Homo sapiens: one gene and its partners. The protein of the gene in region 1 purifies or fractionates together with the protein of each later gene. This does not show direct contact. Each region holds a gene or a part of one and is shown in the gene's direction. Other genes may lie near its edges.

What was found.
Region 2: the proteins of ME2 (region 1) and TBCC fractionate together in Homo sapiens (co-fractionation; one large-scale study listed by BioGRID). This does not show direct contact.
Region 3: the proteins of ME2 (region 1) and ATIC purify together in Homo sapiens (co-immunoprecipitation; one large-scale study listed by IntAct). This does not show direct contact.

What each region holds. Positions count from the first base shown.
Region 1 is NC_000018.10:50,877,571-50,881,320, forward strand, and holds the start of ME2 (NAD-dependent malic enzyme, mitochondrial isoform 1 precursor), read left to right. Parts: upstream 1-1,547; 5' UTR 1,548-1,738; intron 1,739-3,750.
Region 2 is NC_000006.12:42,743,975-42,747,724, reverse strand, and holds TBCC (tubulin-specific chaperone C), read left to right. Parts: upstream 1-1,621; 5' UTR 1,622-1,651; coding exon 1,652-2,692; 3' UTR 2,693-3,227; downstream 3,228-3,750. UniProt on the Homo sapiens protein: Tubulin-folding protein; involved in the final step of the tubulin folding pathway.
Region 3 is NC_000002.12:215,314,931-215,318,580, forward strand, and holds part of ATIC (bifunctional purine biosynthesis protein ATIC), read left to right. Parts: intron 1-3,226; coding exon 3,227-3,303; intron 3,304-3,650. UniProt on the Homo sapiens protein: Bifunctional enzyme that catalyzes the last two steps of purine biosynthesis.

The sequences.
Region 1 (3,750 bases):
CGACAGAGCAAGACTCCATCTCGAAAGAAAAAAAATGTATATACTTTAATGCAATGGGATACAATGTAATGTTTCAATACATTGTGGAATGATCAAATTAGGCTAATATATCCATCACCTTACATGCTTATTTCTTTTTGGTGAGAATATTTTAAATCTACTCTTTCAGCCATTGCGAAATATACATTATGAACTATAGTCACCATGCTGTGCGATATTTCTAAAACTTACTCCTGAAACTTTTTACCCTTTGACCAACATCTCCCCATTCCCCATCTACCCCCCAACACCCCCACAACTGTCTTTCAAAGACAAAAGAATTTCACCTCTACTAATGAAGCATTTATGTAGAAAGACACTGGTAATGTTTAGTTTCCTTCATCCAACCTGCTGCATCTTGTAAGTTCCTGGCAAGCAGAGTTACTTTAGGTCATTCATATTTATAACCTCTCCTTGCCTGCGGTGGTTATTATAGCAACCACACCTATGGATTATCACCTAACTGGAGTTTCCTCCTCACAGGCCCCACCCTTCAATGTTCAGAGAGGGGCGATTGCCCCAGATTTTATTTAATTGTCAGAGTTTAGGAGGGAGCAATTCACTCTTCCCTACTTCCACTCCATCTTCTCAATCCTACATTTCCATCACTTTTAATTTTATTCTGCCTTGCCTCTTTTTTTATATTTTACATCTTATTTTTGAAATTGTCATTACCATGCCTTGTTTTAAGAGTACACAAGCTCATTATAGTAAAGAGTTTTGGGTGATAACATTTTCTGAAATAAGGGTGAAGAAATATCCTCCCATGTCACAACCGTTGGGAGGGCGGGGGTAGGGATGTTGGAAGGCACGGTCCCTGCGGCTTTCAAGGACAAGACAATTAAGTGTTCCGGTGCTTTTCTGAGGCAGAACATTGAGCATCTATTTATGGTGACTGTGACAGTGGAGGTGATTGGTAAATTCACCGCAGGCCAATAACCTTGCCAGCAGCCATGAGGAGTGGCAAAGAATTCTGCAGAAGAGCAAGTCCTAAGCACACAAAACAGCTCGGAAAGTGAAAGCGTCGCTGAAGTGCGGAAGCCTCGCATTTCCTGGGTCCTCTTCTTCCTTCCTTTGCCGTCTCCTGCCCTCCCGTTCTCCCCCTTCCTCTGTGGCTCAGGCAGGACAGACCCCAACTCCCAGCTTCCCTGGCCTCCGCGGGTTCGGAGACTGGGACCCCCGGGCCAGGAGTGCTGGGGGGCGCGGTCGGCCAGCCCCGGCTTCCTTCATGGAGCGGCGGAGCTCCACCTCCTCCTCCGCACTGCACTTCTCACATCCTCAGCATCGCGTCCACGAGGCCGCCCGCCCCGCCTCAGAACCGTAACCTCCAGGAGCTGGGTTGAGGAAGGCGCGGAGGACAGGAACCCCAGCGCCGGCAGCTAAGCCTCCAGACGGAGCCCGCCCCTCCGGCCGGTTCCTGCCTCCAATTGGCCCGCGAGCCCGTCCGTCTCCACCGTGGGCCACGCCTTCCGGGCCCCGCGGCTGGCCGGCTCCTCGCGCCCTCCCCTCTCTCGGCCGCTCTTCGGGCCGCCTCTGCGTGTGGGGCCGCCCGCGCCAGTGTGAGCCTGAGCTGACGGCGGCTCCGGGAGGCTCGCAGAAGGGGAGGGCCGGGCGGCGCGGGAGCTGAGCATCGCCAGGGCGGGCGGCAGGGCGCGGCCTCTCCGCCGGGTGTACCACCTGTCGCGGCGCGAGACCTCTGGTAAGGCCCGGCGCGGTGGGGCCCGGGCGGGGGTCCGGGAGAGGAGCGGGCGCCGGCCTCCCCTGGCCCGGCCCCGAGAGCCCAGCGCTGCCGCGCCTCCGGCCTCCGCGCGTGCGGCCCCCGCCGTTCCCGGCCTGGCGGTGGGGGCTGGGGGAAGGGAAGCGGTCTGCGGAGTCCGGGCTGAGGGCGAGGGACCGGCTACATCGCGGCGACCCAGGTTCCAGCGGCCGCGGCTCTACCCGGCGCGCGATTTCCAGGTTCCTCCGCCGGCTGGTGCCTGGGCGCCCCGCTCTCGCCCGGGAGCGAGGCCCTGGGCCTCCAAACGCCAGCATCTCTTTCTCGCTCTTTCTGCACCCCTCCACAAAAGGACTTCTGTGGCTGGAAACCCTTTGGCAAGCCTATCTCCTTTATTCAGTCGGGCCGAGTTAACGGCAGGAGTTAGGCTGTGTGTGTGGCTCCTCCCTTTAAAAAAAGACTTGCTGCGGGCTGGAGAGTTCTGAGATTGGACCGATTCCGTCTATTATTAAATGCCATCTGTGGACCGGGATTGGCAGGTGTTTCTTTCACGCTGGCGATAACTATCTCTGCATGTGGTGTTACCTAGGTGGTCCTAGGTTTCGACTTTCTTTTTTGGTTCCAGAGATAATTCTAGAAAATTTACGTTGCTTGTGGTGAGAAGCGTGATCAAATTAACACGTGCTTTCTTACAAAACGTTTTATCATCTTCTGTCTGTGGATTTACCTTCCTGATGCTTGTGGCTATCACCTCTAAGCAAAGAGGTTAATAGCATTGCTATTTCTGTTAGTGTTGCAGTTGATAACGATAACAATAGTAGCATGTATTAATTGCTAGTGACAGGCAGAGCGCTAGTTTCTACACGGATTATCTCAAAATAACCCTTTGAGGTTGATACTGTTACTGCCTCCACTTTACAAACCAGGAAACTAAGGTTTAGGTAGGTTAAGTAACTTGCCTAAGACCACAGTTTTAACGTGACAAAGCCTAGATTCAAACTCAAGTGGTCTAACTTCATAGCTGCATCCTCCACCCCCACTCCCTTAAACGTGTATACTCCTTAAGCATTGCTCATGTTGTTAAGCTAATTGCGATGTTGTACCCATAATTTTGATTTTCAATTTACAAATACTCTGTAAATTAGATGAGAGAAACAGTTGTTTTTAAAAACATACATATAGGCCGTTCGCGGTGGCTCACGCATGTAATTCCAGCACTTCTGGGAGGCCGACGTGGGTGGATCACCTGAGGGCAGCTAATTTTTGTAATTTTAATAGAGACGGGGGCTTCGCCGTATTGGCCAGGCTGGTCTCGAACTCCTGACCTCAAGTGATCTACCCACCTTGACCTTCCAAAGTGCTGGGATTACAGGCGTTAGCGACCGCGCCTAGCTCCTAATATGACTTTTATCATGCATTAATAGGAAATGTTGGGCTATGCTTCTGTAGAAATATTCTCTTGAGAATAATATATTTATGCTTAGTAGCTATTTCTGAGAACTGCTTATGGGTGACACCCTTAGAGGGTGTTTATATGTTTTTGTCTTTTAATATATTTATGAAAACAAAATATTCATAAAGGAAAAAACCCATTTACCATTTGGGAACTTCTTTTGTAAAATTAAAAACTTACAGCTATGTATGTATAATCTGTATATTAAGTTAAAAACTCTAATTGATTTTGGTGAATTTCAGACAAACTAGACATATTTTATTCTCTTTAAGACGGAGTTTTGCTCTTGTTGCCCAGGCTGGAGTGCAGTGTTGCGATCTCCACTCACTGCAACTTCTGCCTTCCGCGTTCAAGCGCTTCTTCTGCCTCAGCCTTCTGAGTAGCTGGGACTACAGGCATGCACCACCATGCCCGGCTAATTTGTGTGTGTGTGTATTTTGAGTAGAGACAGGGTTTCACCATGTTTTTCAGGCTGGTCTCGAACTGCTGACCTCAAGTGCTCCACCTCCTTCGGCCTCCCAAAGTGCTGGGATTACAGGAGTGA
Region 2 (3,750 bases), on another chromosome or scaffold:
CAAGAGTAAGCACCATTGTTTTTCGGCACCCCCTTTTCCATCGGGTGCACGCAGGCACGCGGACACACAAGCCTCTCCCCTGCCCCCGCGCCCCGCCTGCGCGGGGAATCTGCCACACGGTATGAACTGTGCTCTCAGCGGAGAAATACTCTGGCCCAGCAATTTATGTGTGTTTTGTTTGTTTTAAGTGGGAAGGAAAGGAAGAGAGTGGGGCGTGAAAATGGGAGATCAGTTTTAACTCAGATTTAATTCAATGGTTCGCGTTTCCTCCCATCTTTCTCTGCATCAAAATGCAGGTAGATCGGTGAAATTTCAAGTTTCTTGGGTCGTTAAATACCCCAATTTAAACGATGGAGGCTGGGAACTGGGGATATAAGGAGGAAACCTAGGGTTGGAAGGGCGGGCAGGGTTAAAGAGGTTCGGGAGCTCCGCAGATCTGAGCGAAGCATGCGAGGCTGCCGCGCCCGGGCAGCGGCTGCGTCTCGGGTTCTCGCCCTGCCCGCTGCCTCGGGTTTTTGCCAGTGACTGCGCCGTCTTGGCTGCCCACCCACACCTCGGGTTGGTCCCGACTTTAGGCTAGGCCATTCACTTCCGGTGACAAATCCCTCCCACCACCCCTAGAAATAATGTACCGCTTCTCCCACCGCTTTCCTAAGACCGACCGCCCCAGAGAGCCACGGAGCCCGGGGCTAGGGTCTCACCCCAGCGCGGCCGGCGACGCCCAGCTGCGGAGGGAGTGGCCGGGACCGAGCTCGGGGAGGGCAGGGAAGAAAGAGGAAGGGGGTGTGGATCTCACCTTCCCCCGCCCCCACCCCTCCGACTGCAGCAATTGGCCAAAAAAATAGTAATCCTTTTATGGACTCCCCCAGGGCCCCTCGAACCAGGTTGCAGTGAGGAACCCAGTCTCTCCCATCGCAGTGCCCCTTGCCTTCTCCTGCCCTAGTAACTGCCTGCGGGGATCCAGGAGCCCCCAGGCCGCGCCGAACTGCAGTGGATAGGGGGGAGGGGGGCGGTAAGGATGAGGGCTACGGGGAGGCAGAAATGGGTTGGGGGAAGGGGTGGTGGAAGGGAAAAGAAAAAACCGGAGGCATGCAAGCGGCTCCCCAGCCAGCTGTTCCAGCTGCTGCTTCCTCCGGCGCGGGCCAGGCGGTGCAATATTCCCCCCCGCTCCATCTTTCTCACCACTACCTGTCCCCCCAACCCACCACACGCACTCATCCCTCCCACCCACACCCCTAGTAGCGGATCTCCGGCCTGTAAGGGGGTAGTAGGGAGGAGCTGGGGGGAGGGGGAGGCCTGCGAGTTTCTAACCTTGTTCTTATAAACAAACCCACATGTGCAGCTGCCGCTGCTGCAACTCACCCCACAATCCCGGATATAAGTCCTGCCCCTTTAAGAGGAAAAAAAAGATTCCCCCGCCTGCCTCCCACCCCACCCATCCACAAGAACCTTTGTCTTCCCACCCCCATAGTCAGTCGGCCCCGCCCCATCTCCCCGCCCCCTCCGACGCAGAGGAACCAATAGGCGAAGAAAATAAGGCCGGGGATCTGACATCATCATGTTAGGCCAATCACCGGACGCGTTGGTGGGAGGCCTCACGGACAGCGCGCCCGGAGGAAGGAAGACAAGAGAGAGGAAGCTTGAAGCCAATATGGAGTCCGTCAGTTGCTCCGCTGCTGCTGTCAGGACCGGAGACATGGAGTCCCAGCGGGACCTGAGCCTGGTGCCTGAGCGGCTTCAGAGACGCGAACAAGAACGGCAGCTGGAAGTTGAAAGGCGGAAACAAAAGCGGCAGAACCAGGAGGTAGAGAAGGAGAACAGCCACTTTTTCGTCGCCACCTTTGTTCGGGAGCGAGCGGCCGTGGAAGAGCTTCTGGAGCGCGCGGAGTCGGTCGAGCGGCTGGAGGAGGCGGCCTCTCGGCTCCAGGGGCTGCAGAAACTAATCAACGACTCAGTTTTTTTCCTAGCCGCTTACGACCTGCGGCAGGGACAAGAGGCGCTGGCGCGGCTGCAGGCGGCCTTGGCCGAGCGGCGCCGGGGGCTGCAGCCCAAGAAGCGTTTCGCTTTCAAGACCCGGGGAAAGGATGCTGCTTCGTCTACCAAAGTAGACGCGGCTCCTGGCATCCCCCCGGCAGTTGAAAGCATACAGGACTCCCCGCTGCCCAAGAAGGCGGAAGGAGACCTCGGCCCCAGCTGGGTCTGCGGTTTCTCCAACCTGGAGTCCCAAGTCTTGGAGAAGAGAGCCAGCGAGTTGCACCAGCGCGACGTTCTTTTGACCGAACTGAGCAACTGCACGGTCAGACTGTATGGAAATCCCAACACCCTGCGGCTAACCAAGGCCCACAGCTGCAAGCTGCTCTGCGGTCCGGTGTCTACCTCTGTTTTCCTGGAGGACTGCAGTGACTGCGTGCTGGCAGTGGCCTGCCAACAGCTCCGCATACACAGTACGAAAGACACCCGCATCTTCCTGCAGGTGACCAGCAGGGCCATCGTGGAGGACTGCAGTGGGATCCAGTTCGCCCCTTACACCTGGAGCTACCCGGAGATCGACAAGGACTTCGAGAGCTCTGGTTTAGATAGGAGCAAAAATAACTGGAACGATGTTGACGATTTTAACTGGCTGGCCCGGGATATGGCCTCCCCAAACTGGAGTATTCTTCCTGAAGAGGAGCGAAATATCCAGTGGGACTAAGCAGTTGTCACTCTGTTCTTCACTCCTACCAAATACTTTCCACGTTGGACTTTCCCCCTTATTGGGTCTCGAAGTTTACTTATTGTCACACTGTGTATGTTTTCAGCATTTTAAGGCTAGAGATTGTAATGGGCTCCTACTTGTAATTTCCATTAAATTCGTAACAGGTATAACACTAAAGCATTTTTGCTATTTTCGTCATGCCTTTGAGACTGAGTCTTACTCCGTCCCCCAGCGTGGTGGCGCGCTGGGATTACAGGCGCGCGCCACCACGCGAACTTGTATTTTTAGTAGAGACGGGGTTTCGCCATGTTGTCCGGGCTGCTCTCGAACTCCTGACCTCAGGTGATCCACCCGCTTCAGCTTCCCAAAGTGCTGGCATTACAGGCGTGAGCCACCACGCCAGGGCTTTATTTATTTATTTTTACCACAATAGTTTGAAGCAGTAAGGGGGAAGGAGGGTGATTATATTGCTTTGTAATGGTTTGTGATACTTGAAACATCACGGTGCATAATAAAGTAGGTCTGCAGTAAATACATGGGTTTGTTTGGTGTGTGTGTGTGTGTGTGTGTTTTGTTTTTAAAGAGATGGGCTCTCCTTATGTTGCCCAGGCTGGTTTCGAACTCCTGACCTCAAGCAATTCTCCTGCCTCAGCCTCCCAAAACACTCGGATTATAGACAGTAACCAGCAGTGTCAGGGTATAGATACATATTTAATAAATTCCAGAGCTGAGCCCGGGGGCTCACGCCTGCAATCCCAGCACTTTGGGAGGCTGAGGTGGGCAGATCACTTGAGGTCAAGAGTTGGAGACCCGGTGCCAGGTGAAACCCCGTCTCTACTAAAAACACAAAAATTAGCCGGGCATGATAGTTCACACCTGTAGTCCCAGCTACTCAGGAGAACTGCTTGAACCTGGGAGACAGGTTGTCGTGAGCTGACATCACGCCACTGCACTCCAGCCTGTGTGGCAGAGTGAGACACTGTCTCAAAAACAAAAAACCATAGGTAATTCCTTTGTCCCTAGACATTCAGTTCCTTCGGAGAGCCATCACTCTT
Region 3 (3,650 bases), on another chromosome or scaffold:
AGAGCCTTCAGAATGAAGACCCAAAGACAGAGGAAAAACCATCCATTTTTATGTTTAGGTTCAACAAAGAATGGACAGAAAGGTGGAAGTATGATTGGACAGCAAGGATATGGTGTATGCTAGTAGACTGAGGTGGAGAAAGCCAGGAAAGCCTGTCTGTCCAGATTCTTCTTGGCTTCTCTAAAATTCTTTCTCCACCCCCTAAGGATCTCCTGACCTACTAATGGGCAAGGAGATGAGAGGATTTCTTTACGTCCAGCTCCTAGACAGAAAGCCAGTGGAAAGTTAGAATCATAAGTTTAAATCTTATGACTGGCTTTGGGGAAAAAGAGTTTTAGTTTCTGTAAACTGCCCTGGGGAAGAGAAATTCTCATTTCTGTGACTTCAGGGAAGAATGAAGGGTGAGAGGCAAGAGGGCAGGAGAAAGCTATATATATATATTTTTTTAGAGGGTTTTACTCTGTCACCCAGGCTGGAGTGCAGTGGCACAATCATGGCTAATTGCAGCCTCGATCTCCCAGGCTGAGGCAATCCTTCCACCTCAGCCTCCTGAGTATCTGGGACTACAGCTGCACACCAGCATGCCCAACTAATTTTTGTATTTTTCATAGAGATGGTTTCACCATGTTGTCTGTCTGGTCTTGAACTCTAGGGCTTAAGCAATTTTGCCTGCCTTGGCCTCCCAAAGTGCTGGGATTACAAGTGTGATCCACCATGCCTGGACAAGGTCTTGGTTCTGGCTGGGCGCAGTGGCTCACCCCTGTAATCCCAGCACTTTGGGAGGCTGAGGCTGCTGGATCATCTGAGGTCAGGAGTTTGAGCCCAGCCTGGCCAACATGGTGCAACTCCATCTCTGCTAAAAATACAAAAAAGAATCAGCCGGGTGTGGTGGCGTGCACCTGTAATCCCAGCTACTCAGGAGGCTGAGGCAGGAGAATTGCTTGAACCCAGGAGGTGGAGGTTGCAGTGAGCCGAGATTCCACCACTACACTCCAGCCTGGATGACAGAGAGAAACACTGTCTCAAAAAAAAAAAAAAAGATCTTGGTTCTGAGGCTGCTTCTGAGCATATTTTTGGGTGTTGTTATCTGCAATAATTTTATCCCAGGAAGTTAACCATTACCTTGTCATGAGGTAAACTGATGGATTTTAATTAGTGAGTATACAGCAGTGAGCATACATAGAATTATTTCCCGAGACTACAGCCATTATGTATAAATTCTTCAGTTCAAAGGAGTAGCAAGCTTTTTAATTACCCCAAATGTTTAATTCTAGAAATAAATCCGCCTTCTCTAAGTTTTAAGTGACTGTCTTCATTTGGAGGAAATGGATTTTATTTCCTGAACCCCAGGAAAAGAAATTTTGAATTTGAAAACACTTATGTCACCAGTTTGTGGATGTTGGAACTGTGTGTGTCATTGGTCAAACACCAGTCATTTGCAAATGGCTCCCCTTAACAGGAGAATCTACCCAGGAAATTCCGTATCTTACTGGCAGAACTTGCTGCTTTAAAGTGTTTATTATAGTCTCAGCTACTTGGAGGATTACTTAATAAGCCCAGGAGTTCTAGGCTGCCATGGACTGTAATCTTGCCTGTGAATAATCACTGTACTCCAGGCTGGGCAACATAGTGAGATCCCATCTCAAAAACTATATATGTTGATTGTAGAAAATTCGAAAATATGGACAACTATAAAGAAGGTAGTAAAAATGGATTGTAATTCTTAACATGCTAGTATATTTTTCTTCAAGCATTTTTATAAGCATGTACTTTATTTCATAGCTTACACAGAAGATAGATGCAGTTTTGCTTCCTGCTTTATTTATTTTTATGTATTTATTTATTTTTTGAGACGGAGTTTTGCTGTTGTTGCCCAGGTTGAAATGCAGTGGCACAATCTTGGCTCACTGCAACCTCCGCCTCCCGGGTTCAAGCGATTCTCCTGCCTCAGCCTCCCAAGTAGCTGGGATTATAGGCATGCCCCACCATGCCTGGCTAATTTTGTATTTTTAGTAGAGGCGGGGTTTCACCATGTTGGTCAGGCTGGTCTGGAACTCCCTTACCTCAGGTGATCCATTCGCCTTGGCCTCCCAAAGTGCTGGGATTACAGGTGTGAGCCACCCCACCTGGCCCCTGCTTTATTTTTTCTTATATATTGTGGGCATTTTTACACACCATTACAACTTATAAAGTCTGCCAGAGTGTTCGTGGTTACGACTTTCTAGGGGTCTGCTTTGTGATATGGATTAATATTTACTGTCCTTCACTTGACCCTTTGTCACATTGTGTGATTATTTTTTCTAGTTTACTTTTTTTTCCCATGTAAAACTTTTTATTTAACATTTCTGTAATCAGAACTCTCAATCTTTTGTTTAAAACTTGGAAAGCATTCCTCACATATTTAATTTTGCTACATGCATGATTTTTTAAATGCTAAACCTTTGATTCATAAGGAATATATTTTTGTTTGGGTTTAACCCGTTATTCCAATAGCAACACCACTTTATTAAACAGTCTTTTATGTCTTCACTCACTTGATATGCCATCTTCATGTGTTGTTGTTGTTGTTTTTTGAGATGGAGTCTTGCTCTGTCGCCCAGGCTGGAGTGCAGTGGCATGATCTCGGCTCACTGCGACCTCCAACTCTTGGGTTCAAGTGATTCTCCTGCCTCAGCCTCCCCAGTAGCTGGGATTACAGGTGCCCGCCATCACGCTCGGCTAATTTTTTGTATTTTTTTAGTAGAGCTGGGGTTTCATCATGTTGGCCAGGCTGGTCTCAAACTCCCCTCCTCAGGTGATCCACCTGCCTCAGCCTTCCAAAGTGCTGGGTTTACAGCCATGAGCCACCGTGCCCGGCCAAGGATATTTTTAATGCTTTTTGTTACATACTGCCAAATTCTCAGTTGTATGTCTTAGTAATATTTAATGAGTATGGCTTATGATTCAGTTTCTAAATGCTCTGAAAATTATAAAACCAGTGCTGTAGTAGTTACCAATTATCCCTGAACATACACAACAGTTAGGAAATAAATTAAATAAACTTTTTTTCGGAAGTAAATAGAATTTTACTTAAGAAATAAAATATAGTGAAATACTTTAAAAAATCAGAATTTTCACGTTGAATTCAGGCTCAAAATCTCTTGAAATGAAAACAGTAGATGCTTTGAATAGTGAAAATTACAATTCAGCCACACCAGTAGTACCATTCTGTTTATCTGTTTTTCAGAGATGTCTCTGAGTTGACGGGATTTCCTGAAATGTTGGGGGGACGTGTGAAAACTTTGCATCCTGCAGTCCATGCTGGTAAGTGGTTGGTATCTTTAATGTAAAAACAGTCAGTGGTTTCCAGGAATATTTTAGTTGATAGCGTCCTAAAATAAAGGAAGAAAAAGGCTCAAGAGAAATTTACATATAAAGTTAATGTTATGAAGTTGCTGCCAGATTTCATAATACGTTAGAACTGGTTTAAAATCCAGCTTGTCTTACTACTTGATGAATTCAGATTGTTTTCCTCTGCTTGCTATTAGTCCTGACCTGATACCTAATTTAGAGTCTGGTGTTTCCTGCTCAAGTTGCTGAAGATATTTAGATTTCATCGTATGAAAATACTTTTAAAATAGTTCAAACTTAGAAGAAAGCATCACAGCGTA